Regions from separate parts of the Homo sapiens genome. Here region 2 is reported to be linked to region 1. Evidence: microRNA targets listed by miRTarBase, many of them from high-throughput screens and not tested one by one. Region 1 holds a microRNA gene; the other region holds the end of a gene's coding sequence.

Region 1 (3,306 bases):
AAAGAATGCAGATCCATTTTTTTTGCATGTGGCTATACAGCCGTCAGCATTATTTGTTGAAAAAACGATTCCCAGTTGAATTGTCTTGTCATGGTTGAAAATCAGTTGACCCATGTATGGGTTTATTTCTAGACTTTAAATTCTATTATATTGAGCCGTATGTTTTTTATTACGTTTTGTAATTTTAAAAATTAGTGCTTTTGGTTACTAAATCACTACAAAATAAATTTAGTCCCTATCTTAAAAGATAATCTTCGTAGTAGCTACCTCCTAAATATGAAGTCTGTAAATTAAAGGGTAATAATACAGTTTAGATTACTTGGGTTTATTAAAGATTTTGGACTCTGCCTTCAATCCACATATTACCTTTCTATCTAAAGGAAAGGATCCTGACCCTGAATCAGATCCAGGTGATTATCTTTGATTTAGTCCTAATAAGACCACTTAGTGTTTGCTCGCATGGGATAAATGAGTAGGTTCCTTTAAAAATTAGTTTCTATTTGTGTGTGTTTTTTATATTATCTCGTTGTATGTTAGTGCATTTGGATTATGCATGATGTACAGGACTTTTGGGTTTTGAAGTCATTGGATTTTTAATTAGAGGCTGTCATGTTTTTCTGTAATGATTTTTTGTTGTTTCTTGAAGGATAAGTTATTTCATGCATTTTCATTTGTAGGAACTGTAAGAAAACCAGCAGTTAATAATAGTAAAAGGTGGTGGTAAGAGGGTGATTTCTGAATCTTGTAAATACATGGTTTTAGGAGCGGATTCAGATAACCAAGCATTTAAAATACTATTAATGAAATACAGGAAATGAAACCACAGCATAGATTATGCATGTAGCCAAAATGTTCAGTTAAACTTCATTTTCAACGTAAGTGAATGAAAATGGTCTAATACTATTTTTCTTATCACTCACACAGGAAACCAGGATTACCGAGGAGGAAAAAAAGCCTTCCTGTGGTGCTCAACTGTGATTCCTTTTCACCATTCACCCTGGATGTTCTCTTCACTGTGGGATGAGGTAGTAGGTTGTATAGTTTTAGGGTCACACCCACCACTGGGAGATAACTATACAATCTACTGTCTTTCCTAACGTGATAGAAAAGTCTGCATCCAGGCGGTCTGATAGAAAGTCAGTTAACTAATTGTACAATATTTAAGATTAACTTGTCTTAAAGAGATGTAGTGCAGCATTTGTTTATGGCCTGGAAATAAATTAATTTAGAGATAAAGTCTGTAGCAAGTACACTGGATGGGGGTGGGGAAACCTTTTGCTTCTTGTCTTATTTCTCTGTGTCAGAATAAATGTATTTTTTTATTTTGATTTATGCTGATAATTTTATGTTGAAATTTTCTTTCGAAAGAGATTGTACTTTCCATTCCAGAAGAAAACATTGCTCTATCAGAGTGAGGTAGTAGATTGTATAGTTGTGGGGTAGTGATTTTACCCTGTTCAGGAGATAACTATACAATCTATTGCCTTCCCTGAGGAGTAGACTTGCTGCATTATTTTCTTTTTATTTAGATGATATTAAAACTCAGAAGAATTAATTTTGACATTTTGTATTTACAGTTTATCAGTTAATTTTCTCTGTTCAAGTAGTACAGTAGGCACAGATTAACATTTAAATTTTTCACATATGGTATATTTCAGAAATTTGAAGTTAAGCAAAAATTTTAATGAGTAGAGAAAGTAAGTAGCCTTCAGGAAATCTTCATAGAGGACCAGGCCCTTTTGGAATTGTGAATAGGTTTATTGCCTTACATCCTGGTACACATGTCCAAGGTCAGGTCCTGGGTGGTAAAGGTAAATACAAATTGGAAGGGCACTGTGTGAGCCAAAATGAGTCAGATTAGTCATGATTCATTTCCAGTTTGGGTTTTGGGTGGTCTTGGAGAATGTTGTAAGCACTGCTTCATTGATAGGTTGATTGAGCCAGACTTTACTCAGCAGCCTGGAAAAGGAGAGATGGGCTCTGGGTTCTACCTTTGCTCACTGGTAAGTTGCTAAGATTTCAGCTTTGCCCTCAAACCCTGAAGTAGTCCTTCATTCACACAGTGGGATCACTCGAAAATGTCAGATGGGGAAGTCCATAGGTTGTTACTTTAAAGAAAATAGAAAAAATGCTGGAAAAGGTTTCTTCAATTTTAATACCCATGAAGGCCCATGTTTTAGCTTTCCTCCGATGGGCAAACCATACACTAACTTGGGCCTTGTAATCAACAAGCAAGGCTAAAAGCTCTCTAAGTGCTTGCTGTTTAAACTATTTTGTGTTGGAAGAAGAGTTGGAAAAGAGGCAGTGTGGAGGTGAGGGAGAAGTTCCCTCCCTCCAATCATTTCCAATAAATGGAAATTTAAGGAGAAATTTGTGTTTATCCTTAATATCTAAGATAATCACTGTGCAGTGCCATTGGTACTTTTCATGAGAGTAGAAACATCAAACTTCCTTGGATGGGCCCAACCCAGGTGACTTAACTCTGGACCAAATGTATGCTTTTTGTTTTATCCACTGTGGACAGCTGCATAGATAATTGGTCTTTGTTCTAAACTGCACATAAAAACATGGGAGAAAATGACATTTGTTGCCTTTTGATGTGCCAAAGAAGAGTGGGAATGTTCTAAGAATTCTTTTTGGCTTAATCTTTGTTGAATTGAAAATATGTATAACTCTTCTGCTGAAAGTGTAGCAAGTACAGTCATGAAATTTTGTGGTCTTCCTGACATGTTCTTCCAGCATAACGTTGCCACCTTCAGTTGGAAACGTATCCTTATCTAATAATTAAGCCCTGGAGAAAAATTAATTTATATATTTTATTAATTACATAAGGACATTGTTATTAGCTAAGCAGAGTAAGTAAATCGAAATAAAACTTTAAAAATGCCTTTATGGAGAGAATGACTATCTCTGAAAGCTTGTTTTTAATGATGATAAAATTCATGATCAGAATTTGTTTCTGTTTGCTTTAATTCAGGGGTCAAAAACTGAAATACCATCAGAGGCCCAGGAGGGGCTAGTTGTAACTGGCAAATATAGTAAATTAATTTGCTCTGGTTGATAGGTAGCAAGCAGGGTTTATATACATTGTCACCTACTTTTCCAGTTAACAGGAGAGACTGGAGATTTTATGAAATTTGATATTTAAATGTTGGTAACTGGGTTGGGCACCATGGCTCACACCTCTAATCCCAGCACTTCGGGAGGCTGAGGCGGGTGGAGCACCTGAGGTCAGGAGTTAAAGACCATCCTGACCAGCCTGGTGAAACACAGTCTCTAATAAAGATACAAAAATTAGGCCGGGTG
Region 2 (3,306 bases), not on the chromosome of region 1:
TTCTCCTCAAAGACAAAAACAAACAAAAAAAGATATAGAACAGTGATCCCTCCAAAGAGCAGTCTTCTTTAATTACAGGGTAGAATATTTTCCTCAATTTTGCCAGACTAGATCAGAGTGGAAGCTTCTCCTCTCAGAAGTATTCCTAAATACAAAATCCTTGCATTAATATTATCAGACAAAAAGTTACTTTCCCTAAATTACACATTCTTTTTTCAATTTTGACTTCCCAGATTTAGTTCTCCACTATAGTAAATTAATGACAAAAGTATAATTTCTTTGAGTGTCCTCTCTCATCTAATTTTTAAGAAGTCTGGGTAAAACACGTTTTTCTACAATCACTGTTATAACTAATGCCGATCTATTTTCTGAGTACTAGAGTACAACCAAAAAATGGCCTGCATTTATTACTCAAATTATACTTGTAATTTTCACCTGCACACAATTTTATATTTGTAAATGTAGACTCATCACTTAAAACTCAGAGAAGCAAAATTTGACATTGAGGGGAAAGTAATTTGTTCACTTATAGCTACTTTTAAAGTTTAGAAACATAAAATTATGTTAAAAGATGAGTTCTATTCACAATTCTAAGTTTACATGTCAAAGTTAACATGCCCAAATAATACTTTCCTGTAATGGAATGACAACCCAAAAAATACACTCAAAATAATAAACACAAAATTCAAAAAGTAACACAAAATAATCCTACCCCAGCAGTTGTTCCCTAATCTACAAAGTCAGACCAAAGGATTTCTCAACTTTCTTTCAATTCTGACTTTTTTTAATAGATAATGGAATCAAACACTAGTCACCTTTAGCTTTATATTACCTAAGAAGTCACTTATTTTTTAACCTCTCAGTAAAGATACTGAGAGTTATTTAAAAGGTATCAGCTAAGATATTATCTCCTGATCCAACAATCCCACTTCTGGCTATTTATCCAGAAGATTTGAAATCCGTATGTCAAAGAGAAGTCTGCACTCTATGTTCATTGCAGACAAGTCACAATAACCAAGTGATTCGATCAACCTAAGTGTCCATCCATGGATGAATGGATAAAGAAAATGTGGCATATATATACAAAAAAATACTATTCAGCCTTTAAAAAGGAAGAAATTGTGTCATTTGCAACAATATGGATGATCGTGGAGGACATTATGGTAAGTGAAATAAGCCAAGCACAGAAAGACAAATACCACATGATCTCACTTATTTGTGTAATCTAAAACAATTAAACTCACAGAAGTAGAGAGAAGAATGATGGTTGCTAGAGGCCGGGGATGTGGGAATAGGGAGATGACAATCAAAAGATACAAAGCCTCAATTAGATAGAAGGAATATGTTTGACTTTTTTTAGATCTATTACACAACATGGTGAATACAGCTAATAATTAAGCACTGTATGTACATTTCAATACTGTTGAGAGTACATTTCAAATGTTTTCATCACAAAATATGTCAAATATTTGAGGTGATGGATAGATTAGCTTTATTTAATCATCCCACATTATATTCAAAAATCATAATGCCACTTCGTACCTCATAAGTATATACAACTATAATTTGATATATAATAAAAAATTTTTAAAGGTAGTCTCCTAACAATCATATGAGGATTATCCTAAAATGTCCTTTAGTAACTGTCATGGACTGAAAAGTATCCCATGAAGAGACAATGTCTACTCAGAACATGTGAATACAAACTTACTTGGAACATGGGTCTTTGTAAACATAATTAAGGGTCTCCAGACACAATCACCCTAGATCAGGGTGGGCCCTACATTCAAAGACACTGTCCTTAAAAGGTAATGAAAAGACAGAGGGAAAGGCCGTGTGAACGCAGAGGCAGAGACTGGAGTGAAGATTGCTGTCTGCAATACTTAGACAAGATATGCCCATAAGCCAAAGAACTCCAAGAATTGCAGACAGCCACAAGATATTAGGAAACAGACATAGAATGGATTCTTCCTTAGAGCCTCCAGAAGGAACCAACTCTGCTGACACTTTGATTTTAGACTTCTGGCCTCCAGACTGTGAGGAAAATTGTTGTAAGCACCCAAGTTTGTGGTCATTTGTTATGGCAGCCCTGGGAAGCTAATACAATATGTATTTCATAAAGGAAATCCCCCTTTTAAAGGATTATAATCAACACAATTTGTCTTTGGCCATCATACATTTCATATTAGGAATTAGTGAAAGAGCTTCATCATTTCTGGATTGTAAACAATAACCAACAATTTGATGCCTAGACAGACATATATGAGTCTCTACTTTATCATTTACTATCTATGCATTTCTATTTTGACTTAGAATTAAAATTATATTTACTGAAATGTTAAGGAACTTTTCAGTCAAGAATATCACCTGACCATTTGTAAATATTTGCTAACACATTGTTATTAGGTTGGTACAAAAGTAATTGTGGTTTTGCCATTACTTTCAATGGCAAAAACCACAATTACTTTTGCACTAACCTAATAGTTCTCTCTGAAGAGAATAAATTAGTTCTAGTAATATGAAGCATACCCAGTTTTAATAAACTTATACATACAAAACATTCCCAAGCTTTGTGAGGGGCCAACATTACGAGAGCGATATGAGATATCTGAAAACAATTTTATTTTCCCATTATTCAGGCTTTTGAAGCAGGTCTTAAGCTTTCCCAGTTCTTTGCCACTTAATTTCTTACATATGTTTAAAATATATATTAAAAAAACTAATGTAATTTGAGGACCACCACTGCACCTAAAAGAAATTCCATGTTTTCCACCTATTCAGTTGTTCTTTGTAGAAATGGTCTAATTATTAAGTCCATTTTTACAGTTCAAAATATCACTGATATTACCACATAAACCTTTGAATGTCCTGACTATTTGGCCACTGAAAAGTCTTGTTCAGAAAGATGTAAAAAGTTATGAAATTAACAATTGCATAGCAACTCAGTTCACAAACAAGTCTGGATGTGGGAGGCAGAGTTATGTTAAGCCTATAAATGACATAAGGTAAAATGAAGTAACGAAATTCCAGCAGTTTCTGAGGAACTATAACAATGAACAAGCATATGAAAAACATTAAATTCCAAAAAATTGGCTTTGATTTCAATGAGTCAGCTATACTCCAACCAGCAAATATATAGGCTGGAACTAACAAATATTTCAGAATTGCATATCTTTGAAAAACTCTTTTCCACACATAGAAAGTATAATGTCTATTGTCTGCTAGCAAGTATTTATGAGCATAAGTGAATTTCCAAACTAAAAACACAGAGACTAAGGTAACCACCAAAAACAGAATTCCATGTTT

What was found. Region 1 holds the annotated microRNA hsa-let-7f-1-3p (CUAUACAAUCUAUUGCCUUCCC, at 1,469-1,490, shown strand). A microRNA usually pairs through its seed, bases 2 to 8, with sites in the 3' UTR of a target mRNA and lowers its output. Matches are read on the target gene's strand: a 7mer-m8 pairs with bases 2 to 8, a 7mer-A1 pairs with bases 2 to 7 and ends in A, and an 8mer does both.
Region 2: miRTarBase lists ALG10B as a target of hsa-let-7f-1-3p. Seed matches in the 3' UTR shown: 7mer-A1 at 2,545-2,551, 7mer-m8 at 1,553-1,559 and 7mer-m8 at 1,080-1,086.

Annotation. Positions count from the first base shown.
Region 1 is chr9:94,174,941-94,178,246 of GRCh38, forward strand. It overlaps MIRLET7F1 (microRNA let-7f-1), which reads left to right and starts at 1,407; the gene lies at 1,407-1,493. It overlaps MIRLET7A1HG (miRlet-7a-1/let-7f-1/let-7d cluster host gene), which reads left to right. Exons shown (of 5, transcript NR_170278.1): 2 at 925-1,025. MIRLET7A1 (microRNA let-7a-1) reads left to right here and starts at 1,017; the gene lies at 1,017-1,096. It overlaps LINC02603 (long intergenic non-protein coding RNA 2603), which reads right to left. Exons shown (of 3, transcript NR_160773.1): 3 at 1,629-2,791.
Region 2 is chr12:38,320,752-38,324,057 of GRCh38, reverse strand. It overlaps ALG10B (ALG10 alpha-1,2-glucosyltransferase B), which reads right to left. Exons shown (of 3, transcript NM_001013620.4): 3 at 1-3,306. The coding sequence ends at 2,845. Among named protein-coding and RNA genes, the nearest start is that of ALG10B, 5.6 kb to the right of the region's middle.